Linked DNA regions of Homo sapiens. The protein of the gene in region 7 interacts with the protein of the main gene of each other region in a pairwise test. Each region holds a gene or a part of one and is shown on either strand. Other genes may lie near its edges.

What was found.
Region 1: the proteins of PTN (region 7) and ARL15 interact in a two-hybrid assay, tested with the Homo sapiens proteins (one large-scale study listed by BioGRID and IntAct).
Region 2: the proteins of PTN (region 7) and HSPBAP1 interact in a two-hybrid assay, tested with the Homo sapiens proteins (one large-scale study listed by BioGRID and IntAct).
Region 3: the proteins of PTN (region 7) and CSTA interact in a two-hybrid assay, tested with the Homo sapiens proteins (one large-scale study listed by IntAct).
Region 4: the proteins of PTN (region 7) and SLC25A36 interact in a two-hybrid assay, tested with the Homo sapiens proteins (one large-scale study listed by BioGRID and IntAct).
Region 5: the proteins of PTN (region 7) and APOBEC3G interact in a two-hybrid assay, tested with the Homo sapiens proteins (one large-scale study listed by BioGRID and IntAct).
Region 6: the proteins of PTN (region 7) and CDH10 interact in a two-hybrid assay, tested with the Homo sapiens proteins (one large-scale study listed by BioGRID and IntAct).

What each region holds. Positions count from the first base shown.
Region 1 is NC_000005.10:54,167,267-54,171,708, forward strand, and holds part of ARL15 (ADP-ribosylation factor-like protein 15), read right to left. Parts: intron 1-4,442.
Region 2 is NC_000003.12:122,783,157-122,787,598, forward strand, and holds part of HSPBAP1 (HSPB1-associated protein 1), read right to left. Parts: exon of another isoform or gene 3,253-4,442; intron 1-3,252. UniProt on the Homo sapiens protein: May play a role in cellular stress response.
Region 3 is NC_000003.12:122,338,436-122,342,877, reverse strand, and holds the end of CSTA (cystatin-A), read right to left. Parts: intron 1,440-4,442; coding exon 1,311-1,439; 3' UTR 909-1,310; downstream 1-908. UniProt on the Homo sapiens protein: This is an intracellular thiol proteinase inhibitor. Has an important role in desmosome-mediated cell-cell adhesion in the lower levels of the epidermis.
Region 4 is NC_000003.12:140,958,552-140,962,993, reverse strand, and holds part of SLC25A36 (solute carrier family 25 member 36), read right to left. Parts: intron 3,532-4,442; coding exon 3,454-3,531; intron 1-3,453.
Region 5 is NC_000022.11:39,083,044-39,087,485, reverse strand, and holds part of APOBEC3G (DNA dC->dU-editing enzyme APOBEC-3G), read right to left. Parts: exon of another isoform or gene 4,311-4,442; intron 3,756-4,310; coding exon 3,602-3,755; intron 1,208-3,601; coding exon 919-1,207; intron 476-918; coding exon 360-475; intron 80-359; coding exon 65-79; 3' UTR 1-64.
Region 6 is NC_000005.10:24,637,876-24,642,317, reverse strand, and holds part of CDH10 (cadherin-10 isoform 1 preproprotein), read left to right. Parts: intron 1-4,442. UniProt on the Homo sapiens protein: Cadherins are calcium-dependent cell adhesion proteins. They preferentially interact with themselves in a homophilic manner in connecting cells; cadherins may thus contribute to the sorting of heterogeneous cell types.
Region 7 is NC_000007.14:137,252,598-137,257,039, forward strand, and holds part of PTN (pleiotrophin isoform 1 precursor), read right to left. Parts: intron 2,378-4,442; 5' UTR 2,377-2,377; coding exon 2,262-2,376; intron 1,041-2,261; coding exon 867-1,040; intron 1-866.

The DNA.
Region 1 (4,442 bases), on a different chromosome or scaffold from region 7:
TGTACAACTCTTTTCTCTGGTATTCTATTCTATGAACATTAGCCATCTTGGTCTCCCCTTGCTCTCGGCTTCATCTCCTCAATGCAGGGAGTTCACTGAGCTCCACCTCAGCTCCCTCTGGAACTGTGCCACAGCCTGGAAACTCTCAAGGCATTAAGCTGGGACAATCACAGAGCACATCTCATTTGTTTCTCATTTCTCAGGGATAACTGCGTTTCCTGGCTTGAAAATTGTTGCTTTGTATATTTCATGAGCTGGTTGCTGTTGTTGTTCTTCTTCTTTTAGATGGGAGAGTAAACTAGTTCCAGTTATTCCATCTTACCAGAACAAGAAGTCCTCACTCATCCTTGTGCTCACTGCCCTCTCTTGAGCATATTCAGTCTTGCCTTTTCCCCTGATGACCACCCTAAACCTCTGACTACTAGCATGCTCAAGAGACCTTTTCTTATAGAAACAAATTCTCTTAGCACTATTTTCTCTTTTTCTGTCCACCTTCTTGAAAGAACTGTCTATATTCCAAAGAGTTAAGGAGTGAAAACGATGGTCTACCCCTCAATTCCTTTGCTTGCTCTTCATCCCCTCAATTCTCAGGTTGGTTTCCACCTCAATACTCTACTGAAACTGTTTCTACCATTAGTTATTAATTACCACGTTGTCACCACATCCAATGGCCTTTCTCAGACTTTAGACTTACGTTTACCTTATTTGACTGGTTCTTTTGATTTCTTGCCCATATTTGACTTAAAGGATATTATATAGAACTGTCTGACCTATATTCCTTATCAAAAGCAGATGCTGTAATGTAAGCTCCAAAGAGCAGGGTTGTTTGTATATTTTGTTAACTGATATATCCTCAGTCCTTAAATCAGTGGCAGTCACATAACAGACATTCAATGAATGTGGAATGAATTAACAAAATATAATTGGTGCTTAGCACCTTTCTTCCCGCTTTCTACCCATTACCCCTGGACAAGCTCATCCAAATCTATGACTGAGTTGTCTCTCAAATCTCTCTAGTCTGCTTGGCTTTTAGCATTTGGATCACTGTTGGATGTCTTGTCAAACCTCAAAATCAGCATGCCCCAAACTAAACTCATTATTTTTATCTTAAAACTCTGTCACATTCTCCCTACTTTTTTTTTTTTTAACAATTCACCAAAACATAAAGCTATAAACTTGACTCATATTTGATTGTTTTATCTTCCTTTCCTCTTGAATACCCAGCATAACTGTCACTTTTACAGTAGCAGTAACATCCCCACAAGTATTGTCCCTGCTGGATCACCTCTACATCTAACAGGTCTCCCCCAACAGCTTCTCTAAGTCTCTAGCCTTAGATCCCAACATCCCCTAAATCTCTGCATGCTGTGCCTTAACCCAGTAAGACCACTAATCTTTCTCTGAATATACCTATGCTTTCTATCCCTAACTCTCCTCACCCCATTCCTCTCTGCTTAGACCTTACCCATCATATGAGACCCTACTCAAATGTAACCTTAACTATGAGCTTTCTTTGACCCTCCAGATTAGAAATGATCACTCTCCTCTTTTAACTTTCATATTTACACCATTAATATAACACATATCACATTCTGTCTTAGCACAGAGCCTGGAGTATATTAAATAAGCAATATATGTGAACTGTTTTTATCAATACACAACTTATCTTCCTAACCTGGGTGTAAACTTCTTGATGGCAGCTTCCTCCAAAGAGGCCTCCAAAAAGACATTATGCCAGGTTCAGAACAATGACAACTCAAAGAAGCTTGATATCCAAAAAATTAGCCAACCTAACAACTAATTCATCAGAAAATAGACTAGTGCACAATTCTGGTAAAACGTATTATTAAAAAATTTCATAAAAACAAACACAAAACATAACTTACAAGTAAGAAAATTATATACAGATAATCTTTTACACTATAATTCAAAACTGCTCCTCTAGCAATAGTGCTAGAAGATAACTCTGATAAGTGAAGAAAAGCATACTTTGTGTTACTCTTACACATATTTTAGAAGCTATTTTGATTGAAAAGACTTAAGCTAATAAAGTTTATATAACTTCATTGCACATTACTCAAAAGATATTCACAGTTTTATAAACAACCAATAAAGTACCTACTTCCACCAGAAATCCTAAACCTTGGATACCACTAAACTTCACTTGAACACCTGAACTGGCATCCTATCTCTAGCTATGTAACAATAGCCATGTCACCATACCTTTGATCTTCAGGTAATTTAGAAACAGAATATGGAAAAAGATTCCTACCTGTCATATAAGGGCTGTTATAAGGCTAACAGAAGACTATATAGATTCAATTTACTTTCATTTGCTTATTAACAGACATCTGTATCCATGCCTAAACCTTGTGACAGACTCTGGGTATACAATACCACATATGATGCTCTAGCTGCCCTTAAGAGATTCTAACCCAAGATGGGGAGATGGGCACATACATAAAGCAGTGCTACAGGCACTAACTGGGAGAAATACGGACAACGCCCAGTGGGGAGAGGAGGGAGTACTCAGTTCTGTCCAAGGAGAAAAGAAGGTAGTCAGAAACAGCTTCCTGCAAAGAGGCTACACATGAGCTCTGCTAATCTTCTCTGGGGTCTCTACTCATTACAATCCCCTTATCCTTTCCCTCATCCTAAAATCAAGCAATGTCTCTAACCCTTTAACAGCTCCACAGTTTCTTATCTCAATTCTAAAATCTGAAAAGCTCTCAAAACCTGCACTTTTTTAAAACTTACTTGCCGGCAAAAGCTGACGTGAACTGAAGTAAGGTTCTTGATCAACAATATCCTTTCTACTTTTTGTAGGAAATCCTAGTTAATAATTCCATCATCCAACCATCACGTAAGCCAGGAATTGAGACAGCCATGGCTTTCTCACTCTCACCCTCCAAACCCAACTACACTAGGCTTTGTCAATTCTAGCTCTCAAATATATATCCTACCTATTCCTTCCTCTTCTTCCCCCTGTAACTGCCTCAGCCAAGGCCTTCATCATCTCAGTTGCACCATCACAGTAATCTTCTGCCTCCGCCTCCAACTGCGCTACTCACAATTTAGCCTCCACATCATGGCCAGCTTGATTCTTCTCAAATGGACATCTGATCATGTAGTTTCCTTGCTTAAAATACTCTGATGTCTCTGCACTATCTACACGAAAAGCCCAAACTCCTGAGCACAGTATGAAAGGTCTGCTAAGATTCAGCCACCACTGAATACAATTTGTCTCCTGGCACTCTATTAAACATACACTGCAGCCACACACAAATGCAGTTTCTAGGAGTTGCCAATCTGTTTGACACTCCTTACCTTCACACTGCCCCTCTGCTCCTAAGTCCTCTTTCTTTTCCACCCCCTCACCTTATTTCTTGTACCAGACCTACTTATCAACCTCAAATCTAATGTAGCAAACCAAATCATGCATCCTTCCCTTCCCCAGGTCCAGGCAACACTGTCATGCCCCTTCCTTCCATGCCCCATCTATTTCTGGATATGAACTTAATGTTTATGCAGCCAGTATACTGAGACTCCTGGAATGCTGAAATCATCGCTTATCTCATGTCTAACACTGGACCTAGCACATAGTAGGTGCTCAAAATAAGCTGGCTGATGAACAATCTTTTCAACTTTCCAGAAAACATCTCACCCTTCTCCTTCCTTCTCAGCTCTCTCTGCACAGCAGCTCTGTTCTCTATCTCTTACAGCTGTTCTTCCATTATTTCCTCTTATACTCTTCTTTCCTTCTTCATTGTCAGAAGAGAAAGAGGACACATTTGGGAAGTGAAGAAAAACCCTAGCCAGGATTTCTCACTAATAACTTGACACTGAAAACATTTTGGGCCTGATAACTCTTTGCTGTGGGGGCTGCCCTGTACATTGAAGGATGTTTAGTAGCACCACTGGCCTCTATCCACCAGAAGCCAGTAATACCCCTCCCCACAAATGACTCCAAAATGTCCCACTCAGAGGCATAATCTCCCCTGATTGAGAACCACTGCCCTAGACTGACTTTGCTTGGCTCCATCAGGAAGCAATAGGGGAAGGCTGATGCATGATCTCTTGCACTGACTTTCCTCCAGGTGAAAAATGACAAGGAAAGAAGATTCAGACTACATCAGTTTACTATTCAGGGAGTGTGTGGCCAAGAAACATAGGCTGGAGTGACACTTCAAGGAAGGAAAGTACTCTATGGGCCCAAGATGAATCCATTTTGTCATATATCAGAGTTCCAGATTTCAGGATTCATTTGTATTAATATTTTCCCAAGCTTCATTTATTCAGTGCCACTGAAATGACCTGCTAGAGGGATATAGGATACAGCAATTTAATGCTATTAAATTCATTTCAAATCTTTTTTGAAAAAGAGATAGTGTTTAAAATTAAAATAAACTGATTAAAGCATTAAACTATAAGTAGAAGGGAGG
Region 2 (4,442 bases), on a different chromosome or scaffold from region 7:
GGTGACCTTTACATGGTAAAGAGCCTTGTAAAGGATAACATTATGTGACCAAGAATACAATTTTCTGTTTTTCCTTGAGATGGTTGCTGCTTGTCGTGTTTTTCACTTTTGACATGTACAGCAACTTTGCATTCAAGTTCTTCATCCTTCCATACAGGCCTATGAATCTAAGTACAAGATTACCTATATTGCAGTGCACCAAATCTTCCTGGACTTGATGTGCCTGGATTCCGCGTGTATGAAAATGAACACCCACATTTTTTTATTATACGTTTTTAAAGTTTTGCTGTAGACTACTTGTACAAAACGTCAAATTTCTCCTCTACCCTCTTAAAGTCTCTAGCTGAGGCTGACGTAAAACAGGTTAACAGGGAAAAGCATACAAACATGATTCAGTACTTTTTACATGTACATGGGAGCCCTCACAAGAAAAATGAAGACCGAAAGAAGCAGTTAGAGCTTACTTAACATCTATATAGTAGGTTGGACAAAGAGTAAATTTAGAAAACATGACAAGACAAAGAAGTTGGGTGACTGCAGTTAATTGTGGAAAAGTGACTGGGAAGTTAAGGGTTGGTTTAACAAGGTTTGTTTGTACAGATTTCTCTCAGCCTTTATTACCCATCTTTGGTTATAAGAATGTCTTCCTTGTTCCTGGTACAGGGAGGGCAACTTTCTTTTTTTTTTTTTTTGAGACGGAGTCTCGCTCTGTCGCCCAGGCTGGAGTGCAGTGGCGGGATCTCGGCTCACTGCAAGCTCCGCCTCCCGGGTTCACGCCATTCTCCTGCCTTAGCCTCCTGAGTAGCTGGGACTACAGGCACACACCACCATGCCCAGCTAATTTTTATATTTTTAGTAGAGATGGGGTTTCACCATGTTAGCCAGGATGGTCTCAATCTCTTGACCTTGTGATCCACCCACCTTGGTCTCCCAAAGTGCTGGGACTACAGGCATGAGCCACCATGCCCAGCCTTTTCAATGCCTTTTACCCAAAATAATCAATATACCAAAGTGGCATATTTGGGGGTGGCATATTTTGATCCCTACACTATGAAAAGCTATAATATATTCATGATAAATAGTATTCTGTTTTTCATGGGATATAAATTGGAATCATCCTTTGGGAAACAACTGGGAAAAATGAAAGAACTGTTCATTATCTCAGTAACTCATGTTAAAGGAATTTACTGTAACAAATAATTAATCATAAGCTATGTACAGCATACACATACACACACACAAATGTCTACTACCACACTATAACAACAAAAAATGTAAACAACCTGATGCCCCAAAGCAGAAAAATATTTACTAAATTATGACAAGGCAATCCCATAGTATACTATATCCACTAAAAATGAGGGCTGTCTAGAAATATGTAGAGATATGAGGTGGGAAGGGAGAGTTGGACCTGAAGTTGACTCAGAGAGCTATTGCAATAGCCAAGCGATAAGTATGATACAGGCCTGAACAACAGGGGTGGCAGTGAGTAAGTCAGATATGGTGAAGATGAAGAAATACTAAGAGAATAATATCAAAGGCTATTACAACCAGAGATGTGGGGTGGGAGTCAGATGTAGCCAAAAGACTGAGGTGTCTAGACTTGGTGACTTGCCATAAGAGAAGTCAGGAGCAATAGCTCATTCTTTTGGGAAGATGAGTAGCTTGATTTTGAACACAGGCATCATAACAATACCATACATTTAACTGTTTAATGCTTCACTGTTTACAATGCACTTTTACAGACATTAAAAGTGCTCATGTGATCTTATAAGAAGCCTGTAAAACAGGCAGAGACGGTAATTCATTTCCATTAATTGAAGGAAGAAATGGAAGCTTAGATGTCAGAGGACTGGAACCAGATTTATCAGGTCCCCTCAGTCCAAGTCCAGTGCTCTTTCCACTGCACAATCCTATTTCTAGAGAATTGACTGTGTGATTTAACTAGGGCTAAAAACTCAGAAGAAAAAATATAACCTGAAAGGATACACAGGAAAGCTCAAGATCAATTCATAGATAATCATTCACATGTGCTCCAGGGAGAGAGGAATGTTTTGAGGAGTGCATGAGTGTATGTGCACGTGCACTCATGGCAGGGAGTGCTAGTTGCCTGTGACAAAGACTCTTTGCTTGGCCAAACTTTAGTCAGGCTTTAATTCTTCTGCTAGGTCCATCTATGCACTTCCTTGTAAAACCCAGTTTTAGGAAAGAACCTTGCTAAGTCAGTTTAGCAAGAATTGCCCCCATCCCTGATATCTGATCAGGTTCTTCACCCCCAGCCAACCTCCAGGTGGTATCTGATCACCTTGGCCTGCCTTCAGCAAGAATCCTGTTAGGTTGGTTTTTCCAGATTTCCCCTTACCCCTGATGTTTCCTCTTAGTAATTTCTTATCCACTGACTCTGCTCCTTGGCTGTAAATTCTCACTTGCCCATGCTGTCTTTGGAGTTGGGCCCAATCTCTCTCCCCAGCTGTGGGACCCCGTTACAGTAGTCCTTACATCTATGGTGATGGTCCTGAATAGTCTTCCTTACCATGCCTTAACAAGTGTCACTGAATAATTTTTTATTTAACTTCTACTTACCCAATACTCATTCTCTTCTTCCTTACTAAAGAACTTTGGGCAACAGGACTGACTGAAAAATTTTATTTCCCAGACTTCTTTGCAGACAGGAGTAGCCAAATATAGATAGATAGATAGATAGATAGATAGGGAATATATATCTATAATTTCCATGTGTGTGCGTGTGTGTGTGTGTGTGCACGCGCGCACATATGGAAGTTGCGAGTCAGCCTTTTTGCCCTCATCCTTTTCTATATACTGCCTGAAAAGCAGACATGATGATTAGCCCTCTTGAGAGACAAATGAAAGGTCCAGGAAATCGCAAACCTTAACCAAAAGAATGCAAATATGTTCATCTTTGTGCTACTGAACCAACTACTACCTCCTGAATCCTTTTAGATTAAAAAAAAAAACAAAATTCCTTCTAGTCTAGACTGTTATTAATTCATAGCTGGTATAACACCTTGCTTTCTGAGGCCATCATTTTCAAGGATAACCATATTCTCCCTCTACACTGTTCTGTGGCTTGGGCTGGATGAATCATGGCTGGTCTGACACACTGTAGCATTCTTTCAGTTCCAAGCTTGTAAAATATTCAACCTTTGAACATTTTGCTTCTGGAACTTTAAAGGGCAGAGAAAAACAGAAGCATGAGTTACTTTGGGGTAGCGATTTATTTATTCTACTTACCTTACATTAGAGCCAATAGATCACATGGCTTTGATTATTCCCAAAATGGTTCATACTTGGGTAGATATAACTGGGTAGCCTTCTATAAATATGGACACAGGCGACAGTAACACATGAGTAGTATTTTGACAAAAAAGCTATAAAGAAGTAAATATTTCTTCTCTAGCATAAAGTTAAATTTAAAAAATGTAATTATCTGATCTAAAAATCCCACACATCCCAGAGATTATTTAATAGGAGACCTCCAACACTAAAATTTGCTGAGAGAGTGCCTGGCCTAGTGACTGGTATATATTAAATGCCAAAACATTTGCTAAATGAATGAGAGCACTATGAAGTGTGTGCAAAGCAGAGTAGCAGGATGTTCACCATAACAGGAAATTAGCATATTTACAGAATTTCAGGCCCATCGTGAAATAAAACAATCAGCTGGTTGTGAGATAAAACTAATTTAGCTTCTGATAATTTAATCAACAATAAACTGGGCCATTAAATTAATGAATTTAAATGTTACAATTTCCTTTAAAGAAGAATGCAATGCTACCCTGTATTAGTTAAACAGCCTATGGATGCACCCAGTTATTCCATGCTAATAATATTTTGCAAAGAGCTATAAAAATTCTGAAGCAACCTCAACAGTCTTCAAAGGATAAGGGTATTTAGGTCTAAACTTGCAGCAGGTAGTAATTTTTAACTAGATGATTTAGAAACTACTGAAAAAAAACAGATTAGTGATCTGGGTGTTACCCAATAGTTTTTTCTCTCTCCAAATGTAGGATGTTCTCCAGTCAATTTATTACAGCCTGAGTTGCAACTAATTCTTTGGAGATAGTGAAACATCATCAAAAATAAATTGCGTCCTTCTCAGTAATTTTTTAAAATTAATGTAAAGTACAAGATAATTTGAAACCTAATTTCTCTGAGAACGCCAACTATCTGGTGTCTGTCAATTAACACCTGGCCTGGATTTGTATCTGAGATTTAGACTTTAAGACAAGAATAAGGAACATTTACCATGTGTCCAGGACACTCCGAATATTAACAGAATATAACAAAAATCTTGAAATTGAAATTAACTTGTCTCTCATCAGATATAATTTTAATGAAAAAATTAAAGATTTTTAAAAACCTTTAGAAGTTGACATAAGAGTAAGTCACACATTACACTACAGAGAATCACTATAATGATA
Region 3 (4,442 bases), on a different chromosome or scaffold from region 7:
GTAATTTGAATGGTGTCTGGGGATTAGATGCTACCAGTGTATCAGTGTTAATTTCTTAATTGTTTAATTTTATTTTTAATTTTTTTTTTTTAGAGACACGGTCTCTCTTTGTCACCCAGGCTGGAGTGCAGTGGCATGAGTATAGCTCACTGTAGCCTCGAATTCCTGGGCTTAAGCCATCCCCCCACGTCAGCCTCCCAAGTAGCTAGGACTACAGGTGCATACCACCATGCCCAGCTAATTTCTAATTTCTTTTTGTAGAGACATGGTCTCGCTATGTTGCCCAGGTTTGTCTTAAATTCCTGTCCTCAAGCAATCCTGCTGCCTTGGCCTACCAAAGTGCTGGGATTACAGGCGTGAGCCACTGCGACCTGGCAATTTCCTGATTTTGATGGTTGTATTTCAGTTTTGCAGGAGAATATCCTTGTTTGTAGGAAATGCACACTGAAGTATTTGTTGATGATGGGGCATCATGGTAAGTAACTTAGTCTCAAATGTCCAGGAAAAAAAGTGGGTTTTTTTTTTTTGCAACTTTTCTCTATGTTTAAGTTTGTTTCAGAATAAAAATATAGACTGGGCAAGGTGGCTCACACCTGTAATCCCAGCACTTTGGGAAGCCAAGGCGAGCAGATCACCTAGGGTCAGGAGTTCGAAACCAGCCTGGCCAACATGGCAAAACCCTGTCTCTACTAAAAATACAAAAATTAGCTAGGCGCAGTGGTAGGTGCCTGTAATCCCAGCTACTTGGGAGGCTGAGATGGGAGAATCGCTTAAACCTGGGAGGTGGAGGTTGCAGTGAGCCGAGATCACACCATTGCACTCTAGCCTGGGTGACAGAACGAGACTCTGTCTCAAAAAAAAAAAAAAAAAAAAAGTATATATATACACACACACACACACACACACACTTTGTAAAATACTTGATTTAATTTTGAAGTATGAGGGTAGAGATGGAATGTTGGGTTATCAGCAGCCACAGGGAACAAGGAGGCTGGTGAATTGATAGTCCACGATCCAGCCTGCCTATGGTGGGGGTGAGGGTGGTACTATCCTTTAGCCAGTTGCATTAGGCTTGACTAGTTTTTATAAGATTTCCAATTGCCATCAATTTATATGGAGTTTATACTCTAAAGCAATAACACTGATTTTGAGAAAGAAAAGGTAATTTCTGCTTAATACAATAAATGAGAAATAATTGAAGAAATAATTTCTTTGGAAAAGAATGCTTCTTTATTGATGGTTATATTTATCAGCAAGGATCATGACTCAGTAGCCAGTTGAAGGAATCAGAACACTTTGGGTACATGCTGCTAAAAGCCCGTCAGCTCGTCATCCTTGTTTTTGTCAACCTGGTATCCAGTAAGTACCAAGTCCTCATTTTGTCCGGGAAGACTTTTGAATACTTTCAAGTGCATATATTTATTATCACCTGCTCGTACCTGAAAAATATTAAAGAAAGAGAAAGCAAAAGGAGATTCATTCAAATGGGTCTACATCAAGTGAGAGAGCCACAGGTCTACAAAGACTTCTGTCCAAAAAGCTGCTGAGGAACAGCATTGCTAGACCTAGTCCACCATTCTTAGACTCTTTGTATTCATAAATCCACCACCTTATTTTAGGAGAAAAAGAGCAGACTAGGCTGGGTGCCGTGGCTCCCACCTGTAATCCTAGCACTTTGGGAGGCTGAGGCAGGGGGATCACGAGGTCAGGAGTTCAAGACAAGCCTGGCCAGCATGGTGAAATCCCGTCTCTACTAAAAATACAAAAAATTAGCCGGGCATGGTGGTGCATGCCTGTAATCCCAGCTACTCTAGAGGCTGAGGCAGGAGAATCACTTGAACCCAGGAGGAGAAGGTTGCAGTGAGCCGAGATCATGCCACTGTACTCCAGCCTGGGTGATAGAGCAAGAGTTTGTCTTAAAAAAAAAAAAAAATTGTAGACTAATGGCATGGCAAGAGGCATAGGTCCTAGGTTTATTTTGTTATTTTTTTTAGTATAATCTGGGCACAAAGGACAGCATTTTATTTTCAAAGATGCATGGAGCAAGAAAACAAGTGATAGCCTATATTTTTGGTGATACTGTTTTCTGACTCTCAACTTGGGACACTTTGTTTGCCATACAGTCTGATAAGGGAGAAGAAAATCAGAATTGCCCTAGAAAATTTGGGATGCAGGGTTCCCATACCTATATCAGAACCTACTTTATAAACACCCACTGGTAGGATTGAGCAGAGCCCAGGGGGCGGACACCCTCCCTTCTAAAGTGAAGGGGCCAGCCGGGCACTGTGGCTCACGCCTATAATCCCAGCACTTTGGGAGGCCAAGGTGGGTGGATCACCTGAGGTCAGGAGTTTGAGACAAACCTGGCCAACATGGTGAAATCTGGTCTCTACTAAAAATACAAAATTAGCTGGGTGTGGTGGTGCACATCTGTAATCCCAGCTACTTGGGAGGCTGAAGCAGGAGAATCGCTTGAATCCGGGAGGTGGAGGTCGCAGAGAGCCGAGATTGTGCCACTGCACTCCAGCCTGAGTGACAGAGTGAAACTCCGTCTCAAAAAAGAAAAGAAAAAAAAAAGCTAAGGGGTTTTACTAGGAAGTCATTGGTAGGAAGGTTGAAGCAGAAGCAGTAGTTTGGACATGAATCTGAGACCTGGAAAATTATGGTAAGAATTTTTACTTTGGTTCTTGCTGGAGACAATAAATGCTTTGTCTTATACAAATATTTATTGTGCTTCTGATGTCACTTCCTATCCTAATTTTAACAAATGCCATATATCAAATGTTTACTGTGAGCCAGACACTATGATGAACATTTTATATAAATGATTATATTAACCTATATTATAGGCCTGAAGAAAAGTGGAGCAATGAAATTTTTACAGACGTGGAAGCAGAGTAGGAGAGATTAAGTGATTTTCCATAAATCTCTCAGCTAGTCAGTGGCACAGCCAATATTCAAACCCAGATCTGTTAGCCTCTAGCATCTACATTCTTTTCACTCTACAATGTAACATTTTTGGGGGGTACTGATCGGGGAATGAGGCCTGGCTCACAGTGCAGTGGTGCGATCGCAGCTCACTGCAACCTCAAACTCCTCGGCTCAAGTGATCCTCCTACCTCAGCTTCCCAAGTAGCTAGGACTACTGGTGTGCATCACCATGCCTAGGTAATTAAAACATTTTCTTTGTAGAGGCAGGGTCTTGCTATGTTGCCCAGAATGATCTCAAACTCCTGGCTTCAAGCTATCCTCCCACCTTGGCCTCCCAAAGTGTTCGGATTACAGGTATAAGCCACCACACCAGGCCAGTGTAACCTTGTAAAAGCTCTTATTTTGTGCTTTATATTAGAGGCAGCACAGCCAGTAGTTAAGCTCAGTCTATCTGGGTTCAAATCCTGACTCTGCTCTTGTAGTTGTGTGATCTTTTTAGTTTCTTCACCACCCTGGAACTCAGTTTTTTCGTTGGTAACCCAAGAGAAGTGATTGTACTTATCTCATAGATTTGTTGTGAGGATTAAATGAGATAAGCCCTGTTCTTAGAATAGTGCATAGTGAATTATAAGTGCTCAATAAATTTCCAGCTTATTTATTCCTCACAACACGCTGCGAAGTAGATTATTACCCTCATTGTGCAGATAAGGGAATGAAGGCTCAGAGAGGAGGAGGAGCTTCCCATAGAACAAATTGAACAAGGGTTCAAACCCAGGACACTCTGACACCTAAGCTTGTGGTCCTTCCATTCTACCACCTACCTCTTGATAGGTACTTGAAATACATAGAGAAGGTCACATCACTGGCAAGACCTTAAATCTAGAGTGCCTCAGAGCAAAGGGATCAACAGCCAGACTACCAGGAAGTAAAAGGGAACTGGGATCGGTGGCTGAGATCCAGTAGGAAAAGTTTGATAGCAGAAGGAAGAAAAGATGAGAGAGAGAGAGGAGACTGATTAAGAGAGGGCAAAAGGGTGGTCAAGGGAACAAATTTTCAAGCAGAAATTTTCAAGATAGTTATCTGATGAACTGTTGAAGAAACATGTGAGCTGGTAATATGTGAAATTTATGCATTTGAATTAATCATAAATTATTAAATATGTTAATGTTGATGGAATGTTTCCTATCTTTGCACATAATCATTTTTAACTGGAAAACTTTCTTTTCCAGCCATGAAGAAAGCAGATTGAGAATGGAGGAAATGGTGCCATTGTTTTCTGAGGATACAGCAGGGTCCTCTTTCACATGTGTCTCCCCGGGACCTGGTCGTTACTAGGAGCTCACATTTGGCAGAACAGGGCTGATCTGTGTACATAGCTCTGTACTGAAACTTTCTTATGCTGAGCTGACTAGCTCCACTTACTTCACTTACTTTTTTTTTTTTTTTTGCTGAAAAAATCTTTTAAAATGTTTATATTTTAATAGAAATATTTGTTAAAGAGAAATAAGCCA
Region 4 (4,442 bases), on a different chromosome or scaffold from region 7:
AGATTTACACTTTTCATAAATACTCTGAAGTACTTTCTGTATTGACTCATTAAAATAAGACAACATCAAATGTAAAATTCCTACCATTCATCCTCAAACAGACCCCCTTCCAATACTCTGACAGCCACTTAACTCACTAAAACTTGGTAACCAAGAAGATAAAAAGAAAAAATGAAATTAAAAAAAAATAAAAACAAAATAATAACTAATTTAAACAAAAAGTATTTAAGATTTTAATGTTTAGAAACTAAATGAATGAATAAGGCTGTAAGGCTGGTGTAATGCTAAGGCTAAATATAGTTACTGAAGATAAGTAGATATGGTATGAGCACTTAACATATAATTTTCTTCATGGGGAGAAGAGGGTGAAGCAGATCCAACTGATTAAAGTATATGCTAAACAATTTTAAGATACTGTGGTATATTCTAATTATACTACACACACAGTAATTCACATTATCCTTAAACAGACAAAACAATTCCAACAAAAGAAATCAGACCCATCAGGTCAGAATGTTTTCCAATGTTTGTAAACACTGAGTGAAATTTAATTATTTCCCTCATTGTTAACTTACTGACTACGATTTTATGCATCCCCACTACCACCTCTATGTTAACTTCCCATGCTTTGAATTATTTGCTTGCTGTATGAAATATCCAGTTATTTCCCCAAAAATCCTGATTACTCATCCAATAAGAAACAGAGTGACAAATACAAATGAGAATTTCACTGTTGTACCTTTTTTAATGTACTTAAGAAAAAAGGAAAATTAATATAACTGAAAATGAAACATTCTAATTTATGAGAAAGAAAAACATAAGATACACTTGATGCCAAGTTGGGAAGAGGAATAAACAATGCATTTCTAGAAACTGGTAAGAAAAAAAGAAATCCTAATGAGAAAATGGCCATGAAATATATATAGGCAATTCACAGGAGAGATATACAAATGACAAATTACAAGAAAGTATGACTGCACCAAAAATTAAATAAATCATATTAAAACAGTGAAAAATCCCTCTTAGTCCATTTGGTAAGTATTTAAAAAAGATGGACAGTAGCCAGCATTGGTAAGGCTATGGATAAGGGATAAAAATCCAGTATGCCTTTTTTTTTTTTTTTTTTTTTTTTTTTTTTGAGACGGAGCCTCGCTCTTTTGCCCAGGCCGGAGTGCAGTGGCCCTATATTGGCTCACTGCAAGCTCCGCCTCCCGGGTTCACGCCATTCTCCTGCCTCAGCCTCCTGAGCAGCTGGGACTACAGGCGACCGCCACCACACCCGGCTAATTTTTTTATATTTTTAGTAGAGATGGGGTTTCACTGTGTTAGCCAGGATGGTCTCGATCTCCTGACCTTGTGATCCACCCGCCTTGGCCTCCCAAAGTGCTGGGATTACAGGTGTGAGCCACTCTGCCCGGTCAATATTCACTAGTCTTAAATATGCATATGCCCTTTTATCCAGAAATTCTAATTTTAGGTGACCATCCTAAAAAAATATACTTCCTAAAGTATTCAAAGATAAAGGTTGAGGTATGTTTACTGAACCATTGTTTATACAATGAAAATCTAAAAATAATCTAAATGTATAATAAGGAAATGTTTATTAGTGCTAGAATGCTATACAATTTTAAAAAAATCACCCCACATATTATCATGGAAAAACTTCAGTTAGATTAGGTTAAACATTTAGTATTATTCAGTTTATGTAAAGCACAATAAAGTATACATGTTTTTATGTATATGATAACCGAGAAAAATTACTGGAAGAATATACATGAACTGTCTATTAATGGTGTTTTTTTTCTTTTAACTTGTTTTATAATTAGGATGCAATTTTGGATATTTTCTTAAAGAGAGAAAAGAACCCATAAAAAGTTGAAACGTAATAAATAACAAGACATGGATCTGGTACATGGTTTGGATACAGAAAGCATTTTCACTCTAAATATGAACTTTATACAGTGTTCTATCATGGAAGAGGTTAACAATCTAAGATGCAATGGTGTCAGAGAAAAATGACGAAGTTATGTTTTCATGTCCTTTTGGCTTAATAGGGACTGCAACCATTCTATCTGTTTGGTTTGTCCCATAAGCCAAACAATGACTTAGTTTTAAGAGTTCCAGATCTTCCCCTTTCTAACTGCTAGTTCCTTTGGTTGTTCCTTTAGTTATTAGTTCCTTTGCTTGTTCTCTGTCTTTTGACTTTTTTAAAAACTACTTCACAATGGTCTTACTATGTGGTCCTTTGCACCTACACATGGTGCCATGCCCATCCTTTTAGATGGTTACTGATACCTGTTTGTCACACCATAGTTCTTTATCCTTATCACCTTGACACCTCTTCAGCATCTTCCTTGAATAGCTTCCTTTTTATTATGGTAAAGGCCATGTACATCACTTACTGCCCTTCAACGATACACAAATTCTCAGGTTTTTAGACTTTTTGTCCCTTTCTTCAACCCTGTTCTAAGCCCTGACATCCTTCCTAGTCCTTTGGTTCTATTTTCTATCTTGTTTCTTTGAAGTTTAATTTCTATGTGGAAAGTGAGAAAGGAACACTAACTTCAGGTGGAGCGCACAGCAGGACAGCTATGAAAAGCAGAAAAAGTCGAGATATCCTAAATGCCTTTTGGCCCAAGGAAAATATTTTGTTTAAAAGAATGCTTACCTTTCTTAGAGTCAAAATTTTTCAAGATGCAAGAGCTGGTTTAGTTAAACTCACAAATCTAGCAAACACTTATCTCAAAATATCAGGAGTATTTTGCAGCCTTAGCCCTGTGTAGATTTTCAATTCTGCACCCCCAAATTCTTCTAACTCCTATGGTCAGATGAGAGGATAAGCATCTCCCCAGAAGACTCAATACACTGCCACTAGCTACGAGAGTATTTCCATTTATCCTGCAAATATTAGTAATTTTATATCTCCTAGTCTATGCAATATAAAGATATATAATATATTCATTATTTTCAACTTTGATTACAACATCTCCCCCAAAAAAATCTCAGGTCCATTTATAGAATTTTAACATTTAAAACTCTTATCTATAAATACACTGTTCCTTAAACTTCTAGGTATAATATGCGATACTTTATTATTTTCCCCCAGTATAAGACTATCAATAATTTAATGCAAATACTATACCTTCTCCCTCACATTATGAAACATAGCCTTTGTATTCATATTACTACTGTTAATTTCTAACAGCAATGAAATACTGTTAAGTCTTCAAAATATCCAGTATCATTTCCTACCACCAAACATTACTTTATTATATAAATTTGTTCTGGCTAGAATCTGAAATTCTTAAAAAGAAAATTAAGTATTTTAACTTCCCATAAACATTGAATACTACATTTATAAATTTAACTGTATCTATAAATGATTAAATCCAGGTGTGCTGAAACAAAAGAGATTGCCATAACTTGCTTTAAACAATTTTTTTTTTTTTTTACCTGGAAGGGGCTACCCCCACTAAATTGGGGCCTAGTCCTCTAAACAAGGAACGAGGCCCTTCTTTTTCCAAGATCACCCTGAAAGAGAGAAAAAAAATTCTATCAGAAATATCTTTCAAAGTCTGGTACTTTATTTACTTTGTATATAAAGTTAGAGTCTAAATCCAGTACATTTGTATTATGTTGTGCTTCTCTGGTGAGTTTTCCTTACTTATTAAAAATTTGTGGCCAGGCATGGTGGCTCATGCCTGTAATTTCAGCACTTTGGACACTGAGGCAGGCAGATTCCTTGAGGTCAGAAGTTCAAGACCAGCCTGGCCAACCTGGTAAAACCTCGTTGCTAATAAAAATAAAGAAATTAGCTGGGCATGGTGGTGCATGCCTGTAATCACAGCTACTCAGGAGGCTGAGGTAGGAGAATCGCTTGAATTTGGAAGGCGGAGATTGCAGTGAGCCAAGATTGCGCCACTGCACTCCAGCCTGGAGACAGAGCGAAACTCTGTCTCCAAAAAAAAAAAAAAGAAAAAGAAAACACACACACACACACACACACACACACACACACACACACACACACACAAAACATTGTTTTTTCATGACATAGCATAAATTGTTGAAGACTGATAATAGATTTACTAGTAATGATTAAAAAATCTGTTCAGATTCTTTCCTGAAAGATTAAGACACAATGATAAAGAGTTCTACATTATTTTCATATGATCATGCTACTCTTATCTTCGATTTCCTTAATTTTACTATCTTTACCAGCAAATTGAAAGCTTAATAACTACCCGCCAATTAGAAATGTAGTTCCTTCCTAGTTTTCAGGTCTTTTACTCAACATTGGACAATACTTCTTACTACTACAGTATTATCTCATCCCCATTCCATTGAAATGCTGTAGCAGAATCTATCACCCTAATGTCCTTTAAGGTACCAGAATGGTTGGCCTGTTATTTCTCCTGCCACTCAGTTAACCGTTGCTATAC
Region 5 (4,442 bases), on a different chromosome or scaffold from region 7:
GAAGATCTTTTATTCTGAGGCTCAACCCAGGTCTCTGCCTTCCTTAGAGACTGAGGCCCATCCTTCAGTTTTCCTGATTCTGGAAGAGCAGGGAGGTTGAATGGAGCAAAGGGTGAGCGAGTGGAAAGTAGGCATATGGTGGAGGCCTGGGGACAGTGACAATGATCGGAGAGGAGGGAGGGATGTGGGAGGTGGGAGAGAAAGGGAGGCTGTGAGAAGGAAAGGGAGGGACAGAGACAGGTGCCCTGGGGGAGCAGGGAACCCAGAGGAGGCTCTGAGCAGAGGGGAAGGCACGGCGCAGGGGAGAGGGGAGGAGGGGGAGGCCGATGGGGCACTGGGCAGAGGGAAGAAGCCCTCACCTGGAGAATGGCCCGCAGCCTCCCACTCAGGTCTTGGCTGTGCTCATCTAGTCCATCCCAGGGCTGGAAGGGACATCCCTGGTGGTCCACAAAGGTGTCCCAGCAGTGCTTAAATTCTGAAAAGGGACAGGGGAGATAAGTCACACTCCCGCTGTGGGATCGTGGTGGCACCAAAGGCCCATGACTCTCAAGACAGACTTCCCACATCCTGGTTTCAGTCCCTCCTTTCCCTCTCCCTCCCCTAGGGACTTAGCTCCTTCATCAGGCACTTCTTTCCTATTGGAATCTGGGCCAGCCCAGTTCTCATTTTTTCTGGAAGCCCCAAGTTCTGCTTCCACTTCCAGCCACCCTCCCCGCCCTCCCCAGGTCCACATCTCCTGGCCTGGCCTCTCTCTTCCCGTCGACCCCAAAGTCAGGTCCAGAGTGCAGCCATCGCCTCTGCAGGCAGAGGATCAAGGCCTTTCCCACAGGGATGCCGACCCTCCCCACTTTCTAGTAACTTCCCGGGGCCCTCTCCTGCCCTGGCTGACCCCATCCTACTCCAGGCTTCCATTCTCACCACTGTATGTCATTATTGAAATTTTGGCCCCAGCCTCGGCCAGGGTGCGCAGCCCCTCCTGACATCTTCCTTGATCATCATAGATGCGGGCAGTGAAGATGCACAGGCTCACGTGTTTGTTTTTTGAAATGAATTTAGCCATTTCCTGGGCACAGCTGAAGCAGGGGCTCCAGGAGGTGAAGCAGGTAACCCTGTAGTCCTGGTCCAGGTCCAGCTTCCAAAAGGGAATCACGTCCAGGAAGCACAGCTCTGCATGGCGGCCTTCAAGGAAACCGTGTTTATGTGGAGCCTAGAAAAGAAAGCAAGCCATGAGGTAATCTTTTTTTTTTTTGAGACAGAGTTTCACTCTTGTTGCCCAGGCTGGAGTGTACAAGTAGCTAGGATTACAGGCATGCACCACCACACCAGGCTAATTTTGTATTTCTAGTAGAAAAGGGGTTTCTCCATGTGGTTCAGGCTGGTCTCAAACTCCCAACCTCAGGTGATCTGCCCTCCTCAGCCTCCCAAAGTGCTGGGATTACAGGCATGAGCCACAGCGCCCGGCCGAGGGAATTTTTAGTGAGTCAGGAGGGACAGCCTGGATCAGGGTGGGTGCGGGGCAGCCTCCAGCACAAAATTAGACGGGGGCACCAAACCCCAGTTATCAAGATGACTTTTCTTTTCTTTTCCTTTCTTTTCTTTGAGACAGAGTCTGGTTCTGTCACTCAGGCTGGAGTGCAGTGGCGCCATCTTGGCTCACTGCAACCTCCACCTCCCGGGTTCAAGCGATTCTGGTGTCTCAGCCTCCCCAGTAACTGGGACTGCAGGCATGCACCACCACGCCTGGCTAATCTTTGTATTTTCAGTAGAGACGGGGTTTCACCATATTGGCCAGGCTTGTCTTGAACTCCTGACCTCAAGTGATCTGCCCGCCTCAGCCTCCCAAAGTGCTGAGACTACAGGCATGAGCCACCACACCTGACCGGATTTTTACAATAATCTATTAAATAATTTAATTTTCCATTACGATGAGATTTCTCTGATACTGAGTATTTGGAGCATCCTCTCATTCTGCACATGAGGTCAGTGCCTTCAGGACCCTCACTCCGCCCCAGGCCTGCAGGGAGGGGCTGTAGAGCTGGGGGAGGGAGGACAGATGCCACTGAGCTGCGTGTGCTTCCCTCATGGGGAGGCTGACCTGTCTACCCGTCAATTCCCCTTGCCCCACCCCTTCTGTGACCTATAATTCTAGAAGCTTCCACATTGTGCTTTACCCTGTATTAAGCCCACGAGTGACATAGACTGAGGCCAGAGGGCTCCCTTTGCAGGGAGAAGTGGGGATGAGGGGCCCCCAGCAGGACTAACCCCACATTGGGAAGGGCCCCAGTCATGGGGTGATTGTCCTTGTTGAGCCCAAGGAATGATGGTGTTTTGTCCAAATTTCGACTGGGAACTAGTCAAGCCCAGGAGTCCAGTGCAGAGAGGACTCGGGGTAGAATGGATGACACGATTTGTGCTGAGAAGGGGCTGTGGGTCATTCCTGGGGGAGTCCCATCCCACTGGTTAGACAGTGATGGGGACCGGTGCCTTTGAAAGTAGCTTCCAAGCAGTGTGTGTGGGCCCAGCAGGGCCCATATTAAGCTCATAGAGCCCAGAGGAACCCCGTTTCCAGCACCAGAGCCAAGCAGAATTTGGCCTCTCCAGCCAGGGGCTGTGCTGGGCAAGGGCGAGGGAAGAACGTCCCTCGGGCTCAGGGCCCCTCGGCCTGGCCTGGCCCAGCTCTTCTTCAAATGCTGGCCATCCCTGCATCCTGACTTGGGGCCTGTTCTGGCCTTGCTGTGGGCTCCATCCTGGTCAGGACAGAATCCCTGGTCGGCCTCTCCTGCCTCAGTCTCTTTTCCCGCAGGATGAAGCCCAGGAGCAGGCACTGGGGAATCCTGGCCTTGTGAGGTCAGGTAGGCCCTGATCCTCAAATCCCACAGTTCTGAATCATTCCTGGTGGGAGCTGTGTCTGTGAGGGGATCCTGGGAGGGTCCTCAGGAAGCACTTTTTTTTTTTTTCTTGAGACGGAGTCTCGCTCTGTTGCCCAGGTGGAGTGCAGTGGCACGATCTTGGCTCACTGCAAGCTCTGCCTCCCAGGTTCATGCCATTCTCCTGCCTCAGTCTCCTGAATAGCTGGGACTACAGGCGCCTGCCACCACACCTGGCTAATTTTTTGTATTTTTAATAGAGATGGGGTTTCACCGTGTTAGCCAGGATGGTCTTGATCTCCTGACCTTGTGATCGCCAGCCTCGGCCTCCCAAAGTGCTGGGATTACAGGCATGAGCCACCGTGCCCGGCCGGAAGCGCTTTTTCTTTGATCCCACTTGGCCCTGGTGCAGACCCTTTTCCTCTGCCCTGACCCTCTCAGAGCACAGCAGGAGTGGGGACGGCTGAGACCTGGACCTGGGGGTGACTCTGGACTAGTGGTGTTAGCCCCTGAGACATGTGGCTGGTTAGGCGTGTGGGGCTGGAAGCCACCAATCCTGGAGAGTCACTGAAGCCGAAGTCTCCCCCAACCCCAGGGCCAAGCAGCAGCAGCTACAGGAAGCACAGGTGACAGACACTCTGCAGGACACCACAGGTACCACCCAGAACCTTCTGCCCATGGGTGTCCCTGGGTTGGGAGGGCCCTGCCTGGATGCGGGTGGCTGGGTTGGTCACCTGGTTGCATAGAAAGCCCCTGCGCTGGTTCAGCAGGACCCAGGTGTCATTGTGCATGCGCTCCACCTCATAACACAGGTAAGTCTCATGCCGTCCTCTGACCCAAGGTTCATTGTTAAAGTTGAAAGTGAATGTGGGTGGATCCATCGAGTGTCTGGAAAGTGGGGGAAAAGCCCAGAGGAGTAAGAGCCCTCCTGGTCTGTCCCACCTCCCCCTCCCTCTCCACGCTTCCTCCCTTGCACCCCACCCTCCTTCCTTCCCCCGGCTCCCCACATCCCTTAGCACCTGTCAGAAGGGGCTCCCACTCACTTGCTAGAGCCTCCAAACCTCCCCCTCTGACCCCTTCTGGGGCTCACTGGGAGATCACGGCAGCCCTGGGGCCTGTCTAAGCCTTGTCAGGGTCTCCCCAGGGTCAGCTCAGTGTGCTCAGGCCCTCTCCCTGGGGTACAGCTGGGTCTTCTTCCCTGGCCTCACCATAGACCCCAGTCCTGGCTCTGCTCGCTCTCAGTCCTTGCTGGAGGTGGACCCACTGGGGCACCCCTCCTGCCTACAGGGTTAACTCTTGCCACACCCAGCATCAGGGCAGAGACACTCCTGAGCGGGACCAGCGGGGAGAAGAGCCTGCCAGGGAGTTTTTTTGTTTTTTTTTAAATAACTCACAGGATTTCTTCTGTTGCCAAAAATACCTGTCCTTACAAAACCACAATTATAAAGGTAAAAGTGAATTATTAGCACCCAGTGCAGAGGCATTTCCAAACCAGAAACACCAGATCTTCACCCTGGAGTGGACAGAGGGGAGGATGCCACCTTTGATAGGACTCTGCAGAGCCCAGCCTGGAAC
Region 6 (4,442 bases), on a different chromosome or scaffold from region 7:
TGCTTATGACTGATTTCCTATGTCTCTTAACCTACTTTGCAGTAAGTGATAACACGTCTTACTGGAATATGTCATTTTTATACCAAATCATTCCACTAGGCTGCAGCACAGCAGCAGTATTGGCTCTGATGATGCTGAATCAGCAGCAAAGTGAACCATATTCTTGTTAAGTGTTATTATCAGTAATAGTGTTTCATAGTAAGCAATTAATACAAACCAGTGATGCAAACCCAACTATCTCTAGTGTAGCCCTTGGGTATTAAAAGCATTAGCCATATTATATTCTGATTTCTACTATGCAAATTACATTCTAATACTGCTGTCACATTAGAAGTACTTGTAAAATACTGAAATTATAAATAGAAAAACAGTAAAATTATTTATGCCAATTATAAGTAATTTTATGCAGATATTTGATCTCTAAATTTCAGGTCTATGTTTGAAAACTCTACTTTCAATTAACCCAACATATTATCTGGAATAGGGTTTCAAAAGAGACAACTTACTAACCATATTGTATTTAACAGTCATGTCTGGAATAGATTGAAGTTAAAAACCAAGTAGCAAGAAACATTTCCTCATCCTTCTTAAACGTATACTGAGCAATGGTAAAATTGATTAAGCGTTATACTAAGTACAATATATGGTTCATATTATGATATTTTAAGTAGTAAAAAGAAGCGTTCTCGGAATGACACTATAGATGCATATTTGAAAAACTGAAAGTTAGCACAGACAAATCTATTTATCTTTTCTTGACACTTACACAGACCAATGAGTTCACAAAAATATATTGTTTTGTCATAATTACAATAATCTGAAATCTACAGAAAAAATACAAGTCCTAAATTTAAAAGAAAATCTGCCTTTTTCCTTTCTAGTTGAAACCTTTGGATGATATTCACGGAGCATTCATATAATTTTCTGCATTTACCCCAATAAGTTCAACCTTCAAAATTACAGATTTTTTTTTCATGCATAAGAACAAGAAACAATTTCAAACAATTACCAAGCAATGCCTGTTTTCTAAGATAACAATATCAGCTCTGGGTCGCCTGTGCCCTCTTCTTTTCTGACTGTAGAGCAGTCTCACCTCACTTGACATTTTAGTATGAGCCCTTGAGCCCTTTTATAATCCATTTCTCCTGTCTTTCTTGAATAGAAGGGCACCTAAAGCGTATAAGTCCATTTTGCTTTTCCCATACCTTCTTGTCATCACTCACTTGAACTAACTGTAGACACATATTGTCAAAAAATAAGACCCATCACATTAAATTTGTAGATTTCTGGGAATGTATTATTCTTAATGAAATATTAACAATGATGAGTTGAAATAATCTGACCTGTTTAAAAATTATTAATACAACTTTTGCTTAACTCTCTTATCAATGCAACTTCTCACAAAAAAGTAACTCTTGATTTTTTTAAGAATGAAAGTGCTTTATTTTCATCAGTTTCTTTATATTTTTATCTGATTTCTTTCTGGCAATGTATGTGATGACCTATACACTTTAAGAGACATTGGTTAAACATTATGGAACTAAAGAAAGGGAAAGCTGCAAATTAAATAAGAAGGAATACAATAAAATCACATTTTACATCATTTTAGGAAATAAAATGTAGCATTCCTTCAAAATAATGCCTGCCTGTGGGAGATTGAAATGCCTTCATATAAAAATGCCTTTCAGTAAAGGGTTTCGTATCCTTAGAGAGTTTGTCAGAAACATTATAAGCACTTTACGAAATCACATGATTTCAATTTTCAATCTTTTCTTTTTTTTTTTCAAGAAAGTAGTCTTGATTCAACATACTCTATATGATGTGATGATATAAATTAAAGTTAAATGACATTTCAAGATTCAGGACAGAATTAAACAATAGACTATAAGATATAATACAACATTGCTTCACAACAGGAAATTCAGCAATAAATGACATTTCTAAACACTTCAGAGCCCTGCTGATCCCCATAAATTTAGCAGGTCATCTTCTCCCTCTCTCTCTCTTCTACCCCATCTCTCTTTCTGCAAATCTATATCTATTTCCATCTCCCTCTCTTTTTTCCTTTTCTCTCCTTCCTCATTTAAAACAATTACAAAACTCCTTGATTAAATTTCCCATGTGCTTTAAAAAAAATTGCCCTGTTGTAAAGTTATATTTCTGTAAATCTTGTGATTTTTATGGCCAGTATTCTATCATCTGCCACATTATACATTATATTTATTACACTATCCTTTGCATTATAGCACAAAGTATATGACAGTTCAGTTGGCTAGAATCTATTCTTTTAAATGAAAGCAACTCTTTTATAAATTTTATAACACTGAGGCTTCTAAGGAGTTGAAATTGGCACCAGTGTAGTTTACTGCACTAGCAAGCCAAGTGTGGGAATTCAGCACTTATTATTGAAATGACTCCTCCAAATTATCAGAATGTAGAATGTACAGACATGAATTATTATGCTCAATGCATAAGTTATTGATTAGGAATCTTTACTGATTTACTATAAGAGAGGATATTGAAATGGTTTGACAGAGCCCTGATTTTTAAAATAAACATAAATTACATGTTTCTAGAAAGCAATGTTTCATTAGACATGTTGATTCTTCTTTGCTGCAAGAAACAAGTATTACCAGTTTAGAATCTAAAAATGAAATCTGGTATATAATGAGCAAATGTTGTAAAGAACTACCATTGCTTTTGTTTCCAGTTGGAAATTTGGGAAACAGAAACTGTAACAATAATTGAGGTAGGCATAATATGTAACAAAATGAAATAATCAATAAGCTGAATACATTAAATATTCTACCTTGAGTTATACTGGGAATTCTCTCTATGGTTAATGTAATATGTATAAATACAAGAATTAAAGTTGAAATTCAATATCATTATCTGAATAGATCAAAGGCAGCCCATATATTTGCCCTAGTAATTGGAAAATTTGGAGTAAATTTTGTACATAATATTAATACAAACTTTTAAAATGTAACTGTTTCTCCTTTCGTAAAAATATAGCTCCACTCTCAATAAAATTAAGTCAAATAAACTTCCTTTGAATCCATTGTAAATTCTGGGACTTCTGAATTAAGGAATATTTTCATAATTACTGAAGCGAACTTCAAATTTAAATGAGGCACCATAATGTTTCCAAATAATTTGTCTTCTAAAGGTAAATTTTAAATTAGTAGGCTTATTTTTTGATAGATTTGAAAATATTTAGCTACCTGAGGAATTTTAAGGGTTTTGTGTTTCCATATAAATCTTCAACCTCTAAAGTGTATTTATCAATTATTTTATATAAAATATTTTCCTTAAATAAACCAAAACGTTAAAATTTTTATACCTCTAACTCAAGTGGTTTAAATCTATTGCTAATAAGATCAAAAACATGAATTACATACTTTCAAAACCAACAGTGTGATATTGATTTGCTTTGGTGATGACCTGAAGAAAAGAAACTATTGGAGTAAAATATATGTCAACTTATTACATCAAATAAGAAGCTGATTATCCAATGATTATCTATTAGCTTAGTCAACTATAATATATTTTCTATTCTTTTTTGACTTCTTCTTAAAGCATTATAAGTTGGGGGTTAGTCCTGCTCTGTAGTCTTGAACCATATTTTGTCACCAGAGTGATTTTTCAACATGTAGTCCCTGAAGAGTGAAAAACAGCAACATGCAGATTTATTCTGCCTGCATTTGGCTCCCTAAATTTGAATATTTCTCCATGAGTAGAAACTTACAGAAAATCTTTATTTATCTACCCCCTCAACCAAGACTTTAGTTATTCCTTTGGAGATGAGTTAAAAAATGAATCCTAAGCACAGACATATACTTAGAGGCACTGTCACTTTGTCTCTTTTTCCTTTTTTTGTTTTCAACTACTGAGTGAAGAGTGGAGGTTTTCTACAGAATTTCTACACTAAAGAAGTGACTTCCCCCCCTTCTTGCTGTATGCAATTAAAAATGATAAATGAGAACTCTACTTTTTCTGAGACTTTCTTGTCTTCTAGCTAACTGTCTTTTAAAATATATATCCTAATTTTCAATAGTTAATACTAGATAGTTCTACATAATATTTTAAAAATTAATTAATAAGCCTTCACTAACTTGGGAATAGGCATAAGTACTTGCTATCGATACTTAAAAAAACGGCAGAAATGAAATACTCCTAAAATCTAAGTTGAGAAAAATATTTTCTTTACTAATTTTTTTTCTCCCCTTGGACTTAGATTTGCCATCATATAGAGTATGAAATCTGAAATCCAGCCCAGTGGAGATGAGAAAATAGATGAATGGCAACCATAATCTTGACTTAAGAGCAATGAAATTAATCACTTTGCTTTATAAGTAGAGGCTAGATCAAGCCTGTTTCTAGGTAGGTCGAAGAAGAAAAAAGTGTGGATGAGGGAGAGCCTTGTACTTCATTAAAGCAAA
Region 7 (4,442 bases):
TACCCCAAAGATTACAGAGGGAGAAAAAGACATACATGTATACATCCATTATCCTTCCTCACTTGTCTATGGGCCACAATGCATTTCCATAGAACACAGATAGGACATTTCAGGCATCATGTCCCACTATGGCTAAGAAAGACAAAAAGTCTGGATTGTGGAAGAGGTTATTTGAGGGTTCAATACTGGATATAAAGTTGAAAGTGTTGAGAGATCCTGTCTCAGATAGATAGATCAGGCCAGCATAAGACTGACTCCAGTCAGTGGGAGAAAGATTTATGAAACGTGGCTGTGAGCAGCCCTGCTGAACTCAGTAAGTGAATCTGTGAAACTGTGTGGAGGTTGGGGAGGGATCAAATGGGAGAGAAGGTCTGAAAGTGACAGGGAGAAACATGGAGAAGCAGGAGAATAAATAAGAAAAGGGGAAAGGAAAAATCAAAGGAACTTAGAAATAGAAGAAAGGAGAGAGAAGACAGATCAATTAACATTATTCAGAGGAATCAAGGATATATTTTATGTCCCTTTGGAAAGGCAGTGGTTCCCAACCAGGGATGATTTTGACCAACAGGGTACATTTGGCCATAGATATTTGGAGACATTTTTAGTTTTCACATCTGGAGCGGGTGAGGAATGCTACCGGAAACTAGCGAGTAGAAGCCAGCGATGCTCCTAAATACCCTAAAATGCACAAGACAGCCTCCACAACAAATAATTGCCTGGCCTGAAATGGGACCAGTCTGGTCACTTTGTGTCTGGTAAGATAAAGTTATTTAAAATAAAAAGTACTTATCCTTAAAAAGACATTTGGTGGAAAAATTTGAGAATTATCTCAGAGTAGGAGATTAACTCAGTAGCATGAGGCTTACCGCCAAATTGCTTCTTCCAGTTGCAGGGGATCTTACATCTCTGGGTCTTCATGGTTTGCTTGCACTCAGCTCCAGTCCGAGTGCCCTCCCGTGTGCCCAGCCCACAGTCTCCACTGGTGGGCACACACACACTCCACTGCCATTCTCCACAGTCAGACTTCTTCACTTTTTTTTCTGAATGAAAGGAGGAAAACCTAATCAACATACAGAAAACTCCTTAACTTCCAGATATAACCAAGTTCATTCCTGAGCACCTTAATTGCAGGATCTGTGTTTTTTAATCTGTATCCTTATTGTCTAATGAATAGTAGAAACATGATGAATATTAACCAAATTATTGAACCAATGAATGATCAAGAGAAGAGAGAAAGAAAACTGAGAAAAGAGCTAAAACTAATATTAATTGAACTCCCTCTTACTATGTGCCAGAGACTGTGCTAAGTGATTTAGTGGCATCTCCTTTTAGAAGCAAACATTTCTATAAAAGAAGAGATGGTCAAAAATATAGTTCTCCTAAAAATGAAGAAAATATTCTATTAGAAATAACAGTTGTCAGCTGGGCAAAGTGGCTCATGCCTGTAATCCCAGCACTTTGGGAGGTCGAAGCAGGCAGATCACAAGGTCAAAAGATCGAGACCATCCTGGCTAACATGGTGAAACCCCAACTCTACTAAAAATACAAAAATTAGCTGGGCGTGGTGGTGCATGCCTGCAGCCCCAGCTACTCGGGAAGCTGAGGCAGGAGAATCACTTGAACCGGGAGACAGAGGATACAGTGAGTTGAGATCGCACCACTGCACTCCAACCTGGTGACAGAGCGAGACTCCAACTCAAAAAAAAAAAAAAAGAAATAACAGTTGTCAAATGAGCCATTTCAGTGTAAGTTGTTGTTCCTTTCTCTGCCTTGTAGAAGGAATGACATCATACAAATATGGTGCATCACAGATTTAAACAGACTGTCAGTTCCACAGCCTACTTATGACTTTGGGAGTGGCATAGAGAAGGTGCTTTATCTTCTCTGTGCTTGTTTCCTCCTCTGTAAATCTGAAATTAAGGAGAAAAACAAGTTGCAGTGCATTTTTTTTTTTTTGAGGTAGAGAGGTAAATAATAAAGCACCTGATTACCGGTCAATGTTCTATACATAGTAGCTGCTAATTTGATCATTATATTAATGATCATCATCGTCATGCAATCCAAGACTTACAATGGGAGAAAAATAAGACAGGATATTTCTTAGGTTCCTCTAAGTAATTATTTTTGAAAAGGGAAGATTGAAGGAATAGAGGAATAGGAAGGGAGAGAGGCAGAGTAGAAGAGAGGAAGGAAAAGCAGGTAATTAGACTAGATGGACATTAATCAATGAAGCATCTTGCCTTCAGAACCCTACTGCTTACCTGGTTTCTCTTTCTTCCCTGCTTCAGCAGTATCCACAGCTGCCAGTATGAAAATGAATGCCAAGAAGGCAGCTGCAAATTTTCGACGCTGCTGCTGGTACTGTTGAGCCTGCATTCTAGGAATAAACAGAGAAAGAGAAGAAGGTGGCATTAACCTAAGTCAGAAAGGAAGATTCATTGAACCCTTGATGAAAAGGCTCCACTTTCCATTTCTGGAATGTTAGATTTCAGGAAGATTCATATCAATTATCTTGGGTAGAATTTTATCTATTCTTACCAACAGCCATTGAAATAAGTGCTCTTCTGCAATCAATCACGTATTCACTGACAAAACGCAACAGTTCTTCACTTAAGACTTCACAACCATTTGCTAAGTATGACTCAGAAATTATGGAAGCAAAAGAACTTTGAAGGCATGCATTTGAACACAGTCCTACTGTCTTGCTGATAGCATCACTTGGTAATATCGACAACTACAGCCATCTTCAAAATTCCTGACAATATTAGAAACAACCACAGCAATGATACTGCTGTACACAAGACCAATTTGAGTAGACATGATGAATGAATTACCTATACAAGTATATGTTTACTGTTTCTATTTAGACGCATACACAACAACCAACATCTCTGATCTTTTTAAAATCATTGTCATAATCATCACTATCATCTTATTATTCCATTATTTATTGATCTAACAAAGAGTGAATCCCAGAAGTAGAGCTAGCACACCTGTGATACATATCAAACACAATGATAAATTCGCATGTGCTAAAAATCCTCTAATCTTAGGATATGGTGAAGTCTTTACACTCACTCATAATAGGAAATGCTCACATTTGATGTGAATCAAAAATCCCAAGATATCATTAGAAAGACTCTCCTAGAACTTGAAGCCACCTGTGACAGCCTAGTGTCAATATGGTCACTTGGCCAAAACACCCTTGAGAAAGTTTCAGTCCAAGCTCCAGGACGACCCACTTCCCAATGGCTACACCATATCATGGCTGCAGCAACTTGCCTGGCAGTTATTGAGCTCCATCTGCTGTGTTAGTGGTGTGTTATACTTCACATAAAAATGGTTGTAATGTCCTATGATCATAGGCTGATAATTTTTTTTCCAGAGGTAGTACTAGATTAGTTTAGGTGTTTCAACATTCTCTTTAGTGTGAACAATAAAACGTTTCATGTATATAAGGGGTTGAGATTATTCTTTTCTCTAATTTATTTTCCTCATTGAAAAATATCTGAGATGATATCCTTGCCCGTGAATTTTTCTCCTTTTCTGTGGCATTGTATATGCTGTCTCTTATTAGTGTTTTTTTAAATTTATTTATTTTTAATTTTACTTTAAGTTCCAAGATACATGTGCAGAATGTGCAGGTTTGTTACACAGGTATACATGTGCCATGATGGTTTGCTGCACTTATTGACTGGTCCTCTAAGTTCCCTCCCCTTACCCCACACCCCTCAACAGGTCCTGGTGTGTGATGTTCCCCTCCCTGTGTCCATGTCTTCTCAATGTTCAACTCCCAGTTATGAGTGAGAACATGCGGTGTTTGGTTTCCTGTTCCTGTGTTAGTTTGCTGTGGATGATGGCCTCCAGCTTCACTCATGTCCCTGCAAAGGACATGATCTCATTCCTTGTTATGGTTGCCTAGTATTCCATTGTATATATGTACCAAATTTTCTTTATCCAGTCTATCATTGATAAGCTTTTGGGTTGGTTCAATGGCTTTGCTATGTAATAGTGCTGCAATAAACCTATGTGTGCCTGTGTCTTTATATTAAAATAATTCATATTCCTTTGGGTATATACTCAGTAATGGGATGGCTGGATCAAATGGTATTTCTGGTTCTAGATCCTCAAGGAATCACCACACCGTTTTCCACAATGGTTGAACTAATTTCCAGAATTTACAAGGAACTTAAACAAATTTATAAAAAACAAAACAAAACAAAACAAAACAAAAACCCCATCAAAAACTGGGCAAAGGATATGACAGACACTTTTCAAAAGACATTTCTGCAGCCAACAAATATGAAAAAAAGCTCAACATCACTGATCATTAGAGAAATGCAAATCAAAACCACAGTGAGATACCATCTCAAGCCAGTCAGAATGGCAATTATTAAAAAGTCAAGAAACAATAGATGCTGGCAAGACTGTGGAGAAATAAG